2 separate regions of the Homo sapiens genome follow, and region 1 is linked to region 2. A link means that fine-mapping ties the variant in region 2 to the expression of a gene that starts in the linked region. Tissue or cell type: whole blood. Region 2 holds a variant in brackets; the other region holds the start of a gene. All regions are shown on one strand. Distances are between the middles of the regions.

What was found. PIP is the estimated chance that this variant, and not a neighbour inherited with it, causes the effect.
Region 1: it holds the start of AREL1, and the variant in region 2 is fine-mapped to the expression of AREL1 in whole blood (TOPMed, PIP above 0.99).

The regions. Positions count from the first base shown.
Region 1 is chr14:74,709,297-74,717,481 of GRCh38, reverse strand. It overlaps AREL1 (apoptosis resistant E3 ubiquitin protein ligase 1), which reads left to right and starts at 4,402. Exons shown (of 20, transcript NM_001039479.2): 1 at 4,402-4,549. It overlaps FCF1 (FCF1 rRNA-processing protein), which reads right to left and starts at 4,338. Exons shown (of 8, transcript NM_015962.5): 1 at 4,282-4,338; 2 at 3,930-3,997; 3 at 2,539-2,610; 4 at 1,383-1,531. The coding sequence starts at 4,284. RefSeq lists an enhancer at 4,225-4,504.
Region 2 is chr14:74,671,395-74,679,579 of GRCh38, reverse strand. It overlaps AREL1 (apoptosis resistant E3 ubiquitin protein ligase 1), which reads left to right. Exons shown (of 20, transcript NM_001039479.2): 6 at 2,828-2,997; 7 at 3,259-3,439; 8 at 3,634-3,881; 9 at 5,469-5,546; 10 at 6,362-6,503; 11 at 6,628-6,749; 12 at 8,097-8,172. Among named protein-coding and RNA genes, the nearest start is that of AREL1, 38 kb to the left of the region's middle. The variant C/T (reference allele first, on the strand shown) is at 3,677.

The DNA of each region.
Region 1 (8,185 bases), 38 kb before region 2:
CAATCAATTCTGATCTGTAGAGAAGACTATTTTATTCCATTAGCTCCATTTTTTTCTCATCTGATGGCTACCTTCACATCTTAATAAACGTATGCAGCTAATAAATGTATGCAGCCATTCTTTTTTTTTTTTAGATGGAGTTTCTCTTGCCAGGCTGGAGTGCAGTGGCACAATCTCGGCTCACTGCAAGCTCCACCTCCCAGGTTCCAGCGATTCTCCTGCCTCAGCCTCCCAAGTAGCTGGGACTACAGTCACGTGCCACCACGCCCAGCTAATTTTTGTATTTTTAGTAGATATGGGGTTTCACCTTGTTGGCCAGAATGGTCTCGATCTCGACCTCATGATCCGCCTGCTTTGGCCTCCCAAAGTGCTGGCATTACAGGCGTGAGCCACCGCGAGTGCTGGGATTACAGGTATGAGCCACTGCGCCCGGCTGCAGCCATTCTTAATTAATTTTTGGGCATCTAAAGAATCTGCTTTCTTACCCCTTCACACATTCCTTAACCCCATCTTCTCATCTTGCTCATTTTAATAAATCAGTAAACAACATTTACCATTTCTATCACTCTGCAACTGTTGTTCATTATATAGTAGCCTTTAAAACTTAAAAAGGGAGGTACAAATTTTTCCCTTTGATTCCAGTAATTTATCCTCTATGGCAAAGTTTAAGTCTAATTTTCATTCGTACCTCTAACCGGGTGACTGAAAAATATATAAATATAAACCCGCTACAAATGGGACAGATCTTACTATGATAGGCTTCATAGATGGCCTTACTTTTCTTTTTCCTGTTCATGGTAGTGAAGGAAGATCATTTAAAGGAGGGGATATACAAATACACAAGGGAAATCTATTAATGGTAAATTGCATACCTAGGTGTAAATAAACTACCTCAGATCCTCTGTACTACGAATAAATACCAAACTGAATAAACTTAGGAATTGACCATCATCTATCTAACTTCTAGGGCTGTGATCATAAATGGCAGAATGTCTTATTTAGTGTTTCAACACTGGGGCAAAAGGGAGAACATATCCTTGTTAACATAAAAGAATATAGATACTGAAAAATAGATTTTTCATTTATCTAGAATTTTAAAATCTAGAATTCTAAAACAGAAAATTCCCCTATGTTCAAAATTGATGTCCATAATGATACTCGAAGCATTCTAAGTGTTTTCTGAATTGTGAAAGTTTAATTTTTTCCAGTCAAGTTTGCATTATACTTCAATTCATTAAACATGGTCACTGCTATGGTGACCACTGTAAATTAAATGGCCAGCAATTCAGTTAACAAGAACCCCATCTCCCTCCTTTCATGTATTTGTATAAATATAATTATTCTGAACAAATGTCACGGAAACATAAAAGTATGATACTCACACTTGGCATACAGACAGTCCATCATTGACTGCACTAAGTCCAGTTTGGCTTTTATGGAAAAGTTGATAAAGTTGGTATCAACGAGGATGTGGTAAGGTGGGCCCAGCTGTGTATTATATTGGAAAAATAAGCAGGAAGGGTGTTGGGGACTGAAGGAAAAAGAAAACAAGAACAAAGAAAAATTTACATTGATACCCTAGTATTAACAAAAACAAAAAAGAAGTCTGCTTGGGACTGTTTGCTGTAAACTCTTTTGTCCATGTTCATTGGAAATAAATCCTAAAAAGGAAGGCAAGGAAGAAAGTAATATCATTATCTTAATCTCAGCTCCCCTGGCAACCTTTGTCACCAACTTTAAAAAAGCAATTATCAAAAACAAACAAACAAAAAAAGCAATTATCCAATCTAGCTCTTCCTCTAGCAAAAGTAGAATCACCATGGGCACAGGGAGGTAGAATACAGTTATCGTGATTAGAATGATACAACAACACGTTTGTCATTCTTAAAGGATTCTAAAACTGCTGTTATGGAATGTGATAGAGAACAGTTTGTCTAGTGTTAGGATTATATACTACAGCAGGACCTGTATCACATCTAGCCCAAGTTGTCTGGGTTGAATATGACAGTGATTCCAAATGCTAGGCCATGGATCAGTATCTACCTGTGATAATATGTCCATTACCAATCCAGGGAAAAATTAGAAAAATAAGGAAAATGTGGTAAAGTTTTCATAAAGTTAAATGTACTTACTTAAAAGGAATGAAATACCTTTATATCTTTATATAAAGGTCATATCTTTATATAAATATCTTTATTCTGAAAATATATTTTAAATATTTTTTGGTGATACAGTCTCTCTTTTATGAACTGCTGGTGTGTTAAACAATGGCACTTATGTCTCTTAAAAGATCCCTGGCAAAGAAAAAGTTAATAATCCTAGATAATATCTCCAGGATTTTAGGGGAAATTTTACTGCTCCATAAAATCCCAAAACCTTCAAACCACTAGAATTGATATATGCTCATCGATATGACTTTCATCTACATAGTTGTGCTAGACTTACTAACAAATAAGTTAGCAAACCAGCTCAGGGAAAGCCTGGATTTCTAAGAGGTCTATGGTTTTAAAGGAAAACTTCAAACGTTTGATTACTCACACTTCTCTTTCCTTTAATGCGCTGGGATCCTTCTTTTCTTTCTTTTTAGGTTTTAATCTATCCTTTTCTTTACTAGGAAGAAAAAGGTAAATTAAATCCAAGGGAGAAGAAAAACCACAGCAATTAAAATCTCAAAAATCTAAAGTTCCATTTTTTTTTTTTTTTGGTCTACTGAAGAAATCCTACTTTGTGATATCCTCATGTTAATATCAGCATACTCTTTCTGAGCAAATAACTCTAGTGCAAAGCACAGTACCTGGAAGTATCAGAATTAACCAGTAATGCCAATAATGCATAAGAATTGTTAATGAGTAAATAAAAGCTGATTATACTATATTTATTTTTTAGTCAGAATCTCTCACATCAAGGATCACAATCCACTTCCAAGCAATGGGTAAAAGGGTGACAGTTATCTTCTGAAGATTCAGATGCTTTAACTTTTGGGGGAAAAGTATTACCCCATATGCTTCTTATAAAGGGCTAAAATGTAAAAACGCATATACAGAACTTAACCCTTAACTAGAAAGAAATTATTATTAATGGAGTGTCATTCCTAAAAATTACACAATACATCCACACTAAAGGCTGAGAATAATAATTCTGAAGGTTTTAACGACTATTCTCTTATTCTGAGACTCTTTTTTGTATTTTTAGTGGAGACAGGGTTTCACCGTGTTGGCCAGGCTGGTTTTGAACTCCTCACCTCAGGTGATCCACCCGCCTCAGCCTCCCAAAGTGCTGGGATTACAGGCGTGAGCCACTGCGCCCGGCTTTCTGAGACTCTTAAACTCAGTGAAGATCAGTCTTTATTTAATAGCTATGCTTATTCTACACTTAAGCAGGGACACCGCTTTGATCCTCTTCATACTAGGGAATTTCACTTCACTTTCTTCTTCCACAGTGATTTGGATTCTTATATTAGTAAGACTTATAAAATGGAGATATCTTGGAGTTTTCCCATTTTCTCTGACAAAAATATTTGAGTACCAGGCACTGGAAACGCCAGACAAACAAGGTCTCTAACCTTGCCATCTTTCAACAAGAAACACTCCCCTCGCCCCACCCCAGGGGAATGTAGTAGTGTAATGGTAAAAACATAAAGAGAACTATACGGACTTCACCGAACTGACATGAGGTTTAAATGCGATATGGCAGACAAAGCATATAACGGTAGAAAAAGTGAACACTTAAGAAATGTTTAATTCCCATCGCCTTTCCCAGTGTGATCGCTCAGCAGCTAAATTACTGTTAAACACTGGCTATCTCATGCTATATAAATCTAAGACACGATAATAAGCAAAAAACAAAATAATAACAACAAACATTTTTACTACTTATCCTCTCTAGACTCTTATTAGAATATCCCTGGGCAGTTGATTCCAGACACTCACAGCCTCTGATCTCTGAGACTAAGCATTCGCTTCATGGTCGCATACTTCCTTGTTTTCTTTTGCTTCCCCTTGAAACAGAAATTTTAGAATTAAAAAAGTTGGAAACACACGGCATCTTTTAAAGTCTCTTCTTTTCTCTTGTCTATTGCCTTCCCTTCTTGCCTCAAATAACCCAGACCCTCTTCCCCACTCTGTAAAGCATAACAGTCACCGCTTGGAGAAGTTTAAGAGCTAAGACCAGAATGAAAATATGCTAGGATAATGTGAAGGAAATTTGGCCACGGTCTGACTACCTCCTTCTCCACCCAAAAAGTGGCCTGATAACGTCCCTTCTTGGACCGTCTTCTCTCACCATGGTCACGCCAAACTCCTGGTTCTTCCGTAATCACCAACGGCGCAATACTTCTACGTCATTCACATACTGCTTCCGGCAAAGGATAGCCCGGAAGCGGAAACTCCTTGGGGAAAGGGCAATCCCCCGAGCCGGTTCCCAGGCCGGGTGGAGACCAACTCTGGGGTCTGTTGGTGGGAGAGTGGGGAGCCCGTCTTCTGCTGAGTGCTGCCGCCCCTTCCCAGGACAGCGGAGGTGGAACTTCGTCGCGCTGCAACCCCCGGCTCGGGTAACGTTTCTCTCCAGCCTTAGGCAGAGCCCAGAAGACCTGCCTTTACCAGAGTTCCAGAGAGAGAGGGAGGAAAAGGGTAGGGGGGTTCAGACTCCTGGTTTGCCCAGTAGTTTGGGGGAACACATTCTCCTCACCCTGTAGCGTTGGGGTATCCGGTGTCTATGGTCCAGCCCTGAGGCTGTGGTTCCTATTTGGTTTTCCTAGCCGATATGGTGCTTTGTGCAGCTAGGTGGATGATTGTTCTCGAGTATATACCGTGTACTCCTCTCGGTGAAGAGAGAAATGAAGCAGTGTTTGAGGGCCTAGACTATCGCTAGAGAATTGGGGCATAAGCTTGCATATGTTACTACTTACCCAAGCCAAGAAAATGGTGAGATACAATGCACATTTATTGTGAAGCCTTGGTGTGTCATCTTTAAGTAAAAAGGGAGAATTTGTGAGAACAAGGAGCGAAAGGTAGCTTTTTTCTTTGAGTACCTGCTATGTATTCCAGTGGTTCTTAACTTTTTGGAGATAACTTATTTCTTGAAAGTTTGTGGAAAGCCAGGAACAATTCTTTAAAAAATGGGCACACATACAGTTTGTAATACACTTAATGAGATTGGTGGACTCTGAAGCCCATCCGTGGACCCTCTGGGTGTCTGTAAACTTTAAATGAAAACCCCCATCCTGTATACTGTACTTGTCACTTTATTCATATTACCTTCTTTGACCTTCTCAATAACATAAATTCTTTTATTTTACATATGGGGAAATTGAGCCCCAGACTTTGTTCAGGGGTCTGTTTGAGTCTCGTGATTCCAAAGTCTGTACTTGTATTTCTTTTTTTCTTTTTCTTTCTTTCTTTCTTTCTTTTTTTTTCTTTTTTTTTTTTTTTTTTTTTTTTTTTTTGCACTTTGTCTTCCATTCTCCAGCTACTGATCAAGCTGGGAACGGAATGGGTACCTCTGTCATACTTTTCTTATTGCATGATGCTATCCTAGAGTTGGAAGTAAAATATGTTATCAGGTTTAAAAAAGAAGGTGACCATTGTATAACCCTTATGATGAAAACACGTTTATTGTTTAACACGAACTTTGGAGTCTGACTGATGGGGTTAAAATCCTTGCTCTGCCTTATAACTCGCCATGACATTGGGTGAGTTAATCTATCTGCATCTCAGTTTCTTTATCTGTAAAATGGAGATAATCATAGTAGCACTCTTTTATTGGGATGTTATCAGGACTTATGTTTATTCATAGTTAACATGCGAGGTCCCTAGAAGAGTGTAAACCAGACTACTCAGAGTGTTTTCTGTTGTTACCATTGTGTGTCTTCCAACTTGAGGATGTGTGGCAGGGTTGGAATTTTATGCCAATTTTATTTTATTTTATTTTATTTTATTTTTGAGACAGAGCCTCCCTCTGCTGCCCAGGTTGGAGTGCAGTGGCGCAATCTCGGCTCACAGCAACCTCCCCCTCCCAGGTTCAAGCAATTCTCCTGCCTCAGCCTCCCGAGTAGCTGGGACTGCAGGCATGTGTGTGCCACCATACCTTGCTAATTTTTGTATTTTTAATAGAGATGGGTTTCACCATGTTGGCAAGGCTGGTCTCAAACTCCTGACCTCAGGTGATCTGCCCACCTCGGCCTCCCAAAGTTCTGGGATTACAGACGTGAGCCACTGTGCCAAGCCCCAATTTTTTTTTTTTTTTTTTGAGACGGAGTTAGTTTCGCTCTTGTTACCCAGGCTGGAGTGCAATGGCGCAATCTCGGCTCACTGCAACCTCCACCTCCCAGGTTTAAGCGATTCTCCTGCCTCAGCCTCCTGAGTAGCTGGGATTACAGGCGTGCGCCAACACGCCTGGCTGATTTTATATTTTTAGTAGAGACGGGGTTTCTCCATGTTGGTCAGACTGGTCTTGAACTCCCGACCTCAGGTGATCCGCCCACCTTGGCCTCCCAAAGTGCTGGGATTACAGGCGTGAGCCACCGTGCCTGGCACCAGCCCAATTTTATTTTAACATAGTTGCACTGGAACTTGAACGTGTTCATAAACCTCAAAACATTAAGTTTTCAGGTCCTGGGATGCTCAATCGCAGGGTGATTTCTTCTGTTGATTTGGGTGTAAACTTTTTCTGCTTCTCCTTTCTCTTTCAGGCACACATTCATTTAGATGGCTTAATAGTTTACATATCTGTGGGCACTGAATTTTTGATGTAGAAATGGTAGCTACAGATACTGTATGTGCCTTCTGCTTTACCCCATTTGTGGTCACTAGAAGTTCCTAATCTTTCTGGAGCAGCTTGTCTCTGTCAAGCTGCCATTCATGTGTAGAGCTAATAGCAACCAGTTTTTTGATGTATCTCTTGGTGATTAGACAATAAGCTTTTTATTGTCTAAAAGCTAAAATAACATGGTCAGTTATTCTTCTTAAACATTTGACTCATTAGTATTATATATAGGTTCAGAGGGAAAATTGCATATCATTAAATAGTAATTTGCATTTAAATTTAGGCACTGACAGAAAAACGCTCTTCTGGTAATGTGTACTTTGAATTTTGGAATCCATGAACAACAACAACTTAAAAAAAGGCCATTTGTAATTTCTATTGTAACCTCTATTGAGAGTGTTCTGATTTCCTTGATTGTTAATACCTAATAGGGAGCTAAATTAGTGTAGGAACACCATGGGGGATAAGAACATACTTAGAAAAATTTGTTTTTGTTGCATTGTAATTTTATTGCAATCTGAGGTTCTTATAGCGTGAAATGAAAGTGGTCAGATACTCTACAGCATTCTTTGATGGGGATGGAAAGTGGGGGATGCGAAGCTGGGAGGTAGTGTTGATTTGTGATGGATGGGAGCAGAAAGTAATTGCTTTTGGGCACATACTTGTGAGGAAAAGAAATGATTTTAGTCCTTCTCAGCAGTCAAGAGGGTTGTTTTGCATTTTTCTGCAGTCTTGAAGAGAAAAAATCACCCAAGGCATTGGACACACAGTTTGAACACATAATTGGGCTTGGACTTCATTCCATTCACTAATTGGTCTAACTTACTAATTTAAGTTGGTATCAAATTTCTTTGTAAAATTATTCTGGATAATGAAAGACTCCTTAAAGAACATCTTGTATTTCAATGTTAGAAAGTTATAAGTAGATTCACTTTTTTGTCCATTTTCAAGTTATAGTTTTTACATTTATTTTTCTGACTTACATGATAGGACTTTTTTTCTCCCAACAAACATTAGTCGCTGTTAATTATTTTTCAATTAACTTGCCTGCCCCTAAATGTGGTAGCATGGCATACAGCATGTTCTGCTTCTGAGGTCTTGATATTGAATTGGTTTGTAAGAATACCTCAGAGATAGATTACTGCCGCTTGGTCATTCATTCAGAAAGCATTTATTGAGGGCCCATTCTGTCCTGGGCAATCTCACCACAGTCCTGTATTACAGAAAGACTTGTAAATAGGTAAAGTATGGTTGGTGGCTGAATAGAGATGTGGGAGTTGAAATATTTTAGAGGAATTACTCTTCTTGTTCATCTTTCTGTAAGTGGTCCAGGTCAGAGTACTGTTGTGTAATATTTATTTAATACTATCAACATATTAGTACCATGTAATAGATCAGATTTTATGACCTTAATGGACTCTAG
Region 2 (8,185 bases):
GCTAGGATTACAGGCATGAACCACCGTGCCCGGCCCATTTTGGCTTTTTACTGTTGACTTTTGAGAGTTCTGTATATATTCTATATGCTAGTCCTTTGTTAAACATATGGTCTGCAAATATTTTCTCCCCATCTGTAGCTTTTCTTTATTTCTTTTTGGAGACAGGGTATCACTCTGTCACCCATGATGGCGTGCAGTAGCATAGTCATGGCTCACTGCAGCCTTGACCTCTCCCGGCTTAGGTGATCTCCCATCTCAGCCTCCCAAGTTGCTGGGACTGTGGCATGTGCCACCACACCTGGCTAATTTTTATATTTTTTGTAGAGATGGGGCTTTGCCATGTTGCTCAGGCTGAGCTTTTCTTCTTATTCCCTTAACAGAGTTATTCACAGAGCACATGTTTTCAATTTTGATGAAATCCACTTTCTGAGGTGGGAGAATCACTTGAGCCCAGGAGTTCAAGACCGGCCTGGGCAACATAGTGAGACCTCATCTCTACAAAAAATTTATAAATTAGCTGGGTGTGGTGGCGTGCACCTTTAGTCCCAGCTACTGGGGAGTAGGGTGGAGAAGTGAGGTGGTAGGATAACAAGCCCAGGAGGTTGAGGCTGCAGTGAGCTGTGATCTTGCCACTACACTCCAGCCTGGGTGACAAAGTGAGACCCTGTCTCAAAAAAGAAAGAAAGAAATCCAGTGCATCCATTTTTTTCTTTTATGGTCAAACTGTTGGTGTCTAAGAAATCTTTGGTCTCAGATCCTGAAGATGTTCTCTTTTTTTCCCAAAAGTTTTTACAGTTTGAAAATGTGTATTTAGGGTCATGATCCATTTTTAGTTAATTTTAATAGATTTGGGTCAAGGTCCTCTTTTTTTTTTTTTTTTTTTTGCTTATACATGTCTTTACTCCAGCATCATTTGTTGGAAAGGTGATCTTTCATTTTCTATTACATTGCTTTTGTACCTTTATCAAAAAGCAGTTGGACATATTTGTGGGGGCTTATTTCATTAATCTGTGTACCTATCCCTCCTCCAGTACCACAGAATCTTGATTTCTGTAGCTCCCTCTTCTTTTCTTTTTTTTTTTTGAGGCAGGGTCTCACTCTGTCACCCAGGCTGAGTGCAGTGGTGCGATCATGATTCACTGCAGCCTTGGCCTCCTGGGTTCAAGTGATCCTCCTGCCTCAACCTCCCGAGTAGCTGGGACTACAGGCGTGCACCACCGTGCTTAGCTAATTTTTTATCTTTTTTGTAGGAATAGGGTCTCACTATGTTGCCCAGGGTGGTCTCGAACTCCTGGACTCAAGTAATCTTCCTGCTTTGGCCTTCCAAAGTGTTGGGATTACAGGCGTGAGCCAAGTCACACAGCCTGATTACTGTAGCTCTTATAATAAGTCTTGAAATTGGTAAGCTGACTCCACTTTATTCTTCTTTTTCAAAATTGTTTTAGTATTCTAGTTCCTTTGCCTTTCCATTTAAATTTTAGAATAATCTTAACTAAATCTATAAATAATCTTGCTGGAACTTTGATAAGAATTGTGTTAAACCTATATATCAATTTGGGGAAAATTGACATCTGTACTATGTTGGATCTTCCATAAACATGTCTCCATTTGTTTAGTTGTTTGTTGGTTTTTTTGTTTTATTTCTTCCAAGTTTTTTTCATTTTACTTAGGGTTTGCAGTGGTTAAGAATTTGTAACAAAAATAATTCCCCAAATTCATTTAAATTTCTCTATTTCTGTTTTTTCCTCTTTTTTTTTTTTTTAATAAAGAGACAGGGTTAGCTGGGCACCGTGGCTTACGCCTGTAATTCCAGCACTTTGGGAGGCCGAGGCGGGCAAATTACAAGGTGGGGAGTTTGAGACCAGCCTGGCCAATATGGTGAAACGCTGTCTCTACTAAAAATACAAAAATTAGCTGGGTGTAGTGGCGGGTGCCTGTAGTCCCAGCTACTCAGCTGAGGCAGGAGAATCGCTTGAACCCGACAGGCAGAGGTTGCAGTGAGCCGAGATCGTGCCACTGCATTCCAGCTTGGGTGACAGAGCGTGACTCTGTCTCAAAAAAAAAAAAAAAAAAAAAAAAGGAGAGAGACAGGGTCTCCCTTTGTCACACAGGCTAGAATGCAATGGTGTGGTCATAGCTCACTGTAGCCTTTACCTCCTGGGCAAAAGTGATCCTCTTGCCTTAGCTTCCTGAGTAGCTGGGACACAGGCATGAACCACCATGCCTGGCTAATTTTTATTTTTTGTAGAGATGGTCTTGCTATGTTGCTCAAGCTGGTCTTGAACTTCTTAAGGGATCCTTAAGGGATTCTCTGGCCTTGGCCTCCCAAAGTGCTGGGATTACACGTGTGAGCCACCGCACCTGGCCTCTCTTCCTCTTGATAGTGTTATTTATCCCTAGGAATTGGGAGGAAACCTAGCTTTCTAGGACCCACTGAGCAGATCTTTGTGCCCTGAAGAGCACCTTTAAATGTTAGATTCCAGCCGGGCGTGGTGGCTCACGCCTGTAATCCCAGCACTTTGGGAGGCCAAGGCGGGCGGATCAGGAGGTCAGGAGATCGAGACTATCCTGGCTAACACAGTGAAACCCCGTCTCCACTAAAAATACAAAAAAAAATTCTCTGGGCATGGTGGCGGGCACCTATAGTCCCAGCTACTCGGGAGGCTGAGGCAGGAGAATGGCATGAGCCCGGAAGGCAGAGCTTGCAGTGAGCCGAGATTGCGCCACTGCACTCCAGCCTGGGCGAAAGAGCGAGACTCCATCTCAAAAAAAATAAAAATAAAAAAATAAAATAAATAAATGTTAGATTCCATTGTCTTTGTTCCAGGAATGGTGGTTCCTTCTAAGACCAAAATTGTGTGCCACTTTTCTACTCTTGTATTGACCTGTGGGCAGCCGCACACCCTTCAAATAGTACCCCGAGATGAGTATGATAATCCCACCAACAATTCCATGTCCTTGAGAGATGAGCACAATTACACCTTGTCCATTCATGAGGTAAGCAGTCTCCCTTCTTTATCTGTGTGCTAGAGAGAGCTGGCTCCTTTCTCTGTTATTCTCACACCTAATTCACTTCGATCTCTCTTTCCTTCTCCTTGACTTCTGTGCTGTCTGTATCTTCATCTGACAATACCTGTCTCATTAGTAATTTTGTGATTTAGATTAGATCATAGATAGGAAAGCTCTTTGTAAGGAGTAAAGTGGCTTGTAAATGGGAAAATACTATATGTTAAGTGATGCTCTGTTGCCTTCCTATAGCTCGGCCCTCAAGAAGAAGAGAGTACTGGTGTCTCATTTGAGAAATCAGTAACATCCAACAGGCAGACTTTCCAGGTGTTCTTGCGACTCACCCTGCATTCTCGAGGCTGCTTCCATGCTTGCATTTCATACCAAAATCAGCCAATCAATAATGGTGAATTTGACATTATTGTCCTAAGTGGTAAGTTAAAAGAAAAGTATGATTTAGTGCTGTTCTTCAGCCGTTTCTTTGCCTGTTTGCACTCTTTTGTCTGACCTCACAAACATTTGATATTTGGGCCACATTTGGCTTGTCCTGTGGACTAAAAGCCTGTGATAGGTAATTTTTTTCTTCTCTGACTTCTACTTTAAACCTTATTCCTTATTATACTTCAGAGGATGAGAAGAATATCGTCGAACGCAATGTGTCCACTTCAGG[C/T]GTGAGCATTTACTTTGAGGCTTATCTTTATAATGCTACCAACTGTAGCAGCACTCCATGGCACCTGCCACCCATGCACATGACCTCTTCCCAGCGCCGGCCATCCACTGCTGTTGACGAGGAAGATGAAGACTCGCCCTCTGAGTGCCACACCCCTGAGAAGGTGAAGAAACCGAAGAAGGTGTACTGCTATGTGTCACCAAAGGTTGGACCTTCCATTCTCGACATAAAATCCCCCTGCTTGAACCTGTGTGTAATTGGTATTTGGTAGCAGAAACCACAAAGTAACAGTCTGAGAATCAGGGCAAGATTGTTAACTAGTTGTATAGAAAGCCACTTTCAACTGTTAAAAATTTCTTGCTAGCATAAAAATTACTGTTGGCTTCTTGTGCTGTGTCAAAACAATTTGATCTTTTGTTCTGTGATTCATGAAACCACAGTAAATGGATGTCACTATTAGGCTACAGGATTGGAGTAAAGAAATTTTGGCAGAGGAAAGAAGGTGAATTTCCCAAGCCCCTGAGCTAAGAAGCACTTTGTGTTAGTTTCTTTTTAATATTTGTTTTTCCTTATTCATTCAGTCCTCATAAAAATGAGACTCTGTGAAACATCCCATTGCATCTCTTTAATCTCATAACCAAAACTGAGTTCTAATTCTGTTCTACTTCAGAACACTTTGCTGTGTACCATTCTTCATTTAAAAATCTAGCCTTAATTTGGACTAGGGGTGATGGTAATGAGGGAAATGGGTAAGTGAATAAATGAAACAAGATTGGCTATGAATTGATAATTGTTGAAGCAGCTGATAGTTTCATTATACTTCTTTGTCTTCTTTAGTATGTGTTTGAAATTTTCTTTAAACTTTTTTTTATCAAGAAAACAACTGACCTGCACATTCAGATAAAAGGGATTTTTTAAGATTAAAAAATTTTTGCATTGTCTTTTCCTCTTTTGTATGAACTTTTTTGTGTGAGGACCTTCCCCTATACCACCAACATATTCCACTCCAGCTCACCCCATCTTGCCTCCCTTCCCTGGCAGATCCTTGGCACCATTCAAATAGGTATAAAGCAGTGTGTATGGGTTGCTGGTGTTTGCTATCCAGTAACTTGGAGGAAGTCATTCTGAGCATCATGGGGCTGAGCAGAAGGAGATTTTGATTGTTTCTAGGTGAAATATTCTGTTCTCATAAAGTGAAAACCTGATCCCAGATATTTAGAAAGACTTGAGTATTACAATTATGAAATATCTCTGTGTGAAACTGCATTGTCAGTCATATTTTTTTTATTTATTTTATTTTTTGAGACAGGGTCTCACTTTGTCACCCATGCTGGAGTGCCATGGTCCAATCTCAGCTCACTGCACCCTCTGCCTCCCGGGTTCAAGCGATTCTTGTGCCTCAGCCTCCCGAGTACTTGGGATTACAGGCATGAGCTACCGCACCCAGCTAATTTTTTTGTATTTTTAGTAGAGACTGAGTTTTGCCATGTTGGCCAGGCTGGTCTTGAACTCCTGGCCTCAAGTGATCTGCCTGCCTCGGCCTCCCAAAGTGCTGAGATTATAGATGTGAGCCATCCACACTTGGCCATCAGGGTAATATTTTTAATTTGCCTTTTTAAATAGAGAGTTAATGTATTTATTTGACTTTAGTACTCACTAAATTATTACTTTTGTCCATGGAGAGGAAAGGTTATGAGAAATGTAAATAGGGACTATGATATTTGAATTAGAATACCCAAATAGAGCCTTTTTATTTATCATTCACTTCATTTCCTGTCTGTTGGTCCTCCAGCAATTCTCAGTGAAGGAGTTCTACCTGAAGATCATCCCCTGGCGCCTTTACACCTTCCGAGTGTGTCCAGGAACAAAAGTAAGCTGAACCTTACATCTGGTTCACATCAAGCATGCTTCATCTCTGGACTATCTCAGCCTTTTATTTTTTCTCAGAAGCACTTTTAGTGTTTCTGCAAGATCTCACAGTGTACACAGGATTCGTTGCCAAATAAAGCATCATTATCTCCTCACTAAATGGCATGAAGAATATATAAATTCTGGAAGGACGCATGCCTACAGAAACAGGAATTAGCAGCAACTCAGAATACTTCAACAGTGATCCTTTGCCTTCAAGACTAAGTTAATAGAGAAGATGTTTGTAACTCTGGCCCAAGCTTGGTCTCCCAGTGTGCTGAAGCTAACTCCTTTTAGAAGCACCACTCTCATATATTAAAATACATTGTTTGTTTGTTGTTAACTTTTCTGGGCTTCTGGAATCTAAACTTTTGCCCAAAGGCTAGAATGTGCCATTTTATAAAAATAGTTTTCTTCTGATCAGTTTGGAGTAGTCATTTATTGCTGTTTAATATATCCTTACTATTGCTATTTAATATATCACCGTATTGCCATTTATTGCTATTTAACATATCACCCTTCTTATATTTTATGTTAGAAGGTCTGTAGTTTTGCTGGTGGTCCTAACTAAAGGCAGTCTCTGTGACTAAAATAATTTTAAATGTTGAAATGTAAATCACTGAAGGGAAAAATAATGAAATGTATTTCTGGTAGGTCCTCATTTGGAGAAAACAAGCCTAACTTATTGTTGTTGGTTGGTACACAGGATAGAGCTGTGGAGGACTTTTACTGGCCTTGAGGGTTTTATAGATTAATTTCTTTGTTTTTCTTTACCAGTTTTCATACCTTGGTCCTGACCCTGTCCATAAGCTGCTCACACTGGTGGTGGATGATGGCATTCAACCTCCTGTGGAGCTCAGCTGTAAGGAGAGGAACATTCTAGCAGCCACTTTTATCCGCTCCCTGCATAAGAACATAGGTGAGGTTACACAGGGATTCTATAGGGAAGGTAGTGAGCCCAGCCACATCCATGAGGGTGGAGAGGCAGGACTACACAGATGGCTTGTAATGAGGCTGTAATGATGGATCTTGCTGTTCCCCAGGAGGCTCTGAGACCTTTCAGGACAAGGTGAACTTTTTCCAGCGAGAGCTTCGGCAGGTACATATGAAAAGACCACATTCCAAAGTCACCCTGAAGGTCAGCAGACATGCCTTGTTGGAATCGGTAGGTAAAATTTCATCTCTGTCAGCAGATACCAAAGTTTTCCAATTGAATGTCTATATTCTGCAGGTTACTGTTTTTGTTTTTGTTTTTGTTTGGGAGATAGGGTCTCACTCTATTGCCCAGGCTGGGGTGCAGAGGTGCGATCATGGCTCACTGCAGCCTCGATCTTCCCGGGCTGTGATCCTCCCAACTCAGCCTCCCAAATAGCTGGGACTATAGGTATGTGTCACCATGCCTGGCTAATTTTTGTATTTTTTGTAAAGATGGGATTTTGCCATATTGCTCCGGCTGGTCTCGAACTCCTGGACTCAAGTGATACACCCGCCTCAGCCTCCCAAAGTGTTGGGATTACAGGCATGAGCTACCATGCCTGATCTGGTTATCTTTTTCATGAAACTTAAATTTCTCTGTTTAAGTAAAGATATAGATATACTTATAAAAGACAGATATACTTATAAAAGACAGATATACTAAATTTCTGAAACCTAAATTTCTCTCTTTACATATGTCTGTTCTTCTATTTGATTCTACTAAATTTGGGGCAGTTTTGTTGGAGGTATGTTATCGAGGGAAGAGCAGTTTACTTACTGGCCTTCAAATCTACTGAATGGGTCCCTTGGAACTCCCATGTAGGGCAGGTGTAAATAGTGATTACAGAAGAAACTTCTTGTTATTGAATCCCTGGAATAGAGCGCTTGTTGAATTAAAAGGAAATGATTTTTGTTGTCACTTTGGTCTGATGGAAAAGGAACACCTGATGTGTGTCTGTCTCCACTGCACAGACACTGGCATAGTTCTTACATTCCCCAGGAATGAGAAGGCTTGGTTCCTGTCCAGAAAGTGTTTGTGATGTTTGGCTCTGGTAGGTGTGACTGGAAACCCGTTTTCTCAGCCATATTCTCCGTGTGGCATGGCTCGCTGTCTGAACCTAGCCTTGTGGATAAATATGTCTAGTGGATAGATCATACTTTGCTGAAAACCAGGATTCCTTGGTTCTTTTGCCTACAGCTTACTGACTTGAGTCATTTTTTACTTCTTTATGCAAGAATGTTTTCATTGCTAAAACAAGGATTGTTTAAAACAAAAGGAAAAGAAAAAAACAACTTCAGCTTTCCAACAAAGTGATGATGTAAAGGCAAATCAGATTATTTTTTAAAACTTTAAATTTGAAGTTATGTGCATTTTAAATGTCAGGTGGTATCATTAAAGCTTGTTTATGAGTAACATATCTCCTTCAGGCAGTCGTAGTTAGTCCAGCAGACAATGGCAGTGCTCTTGTGTTGTCTTTAACATCCAGAGGACACCAGCCAGTGTTCTGACAATTCCCTTCCTTTCACTTCTTTTCAGTCTCTGAAAGCCACTCGGAATTTCTCCATCTCAGATTGGAGCAAGAACTTTGAGGTTGTTTTCCAGGATGAAGAAGGTCAGTTTTGAAA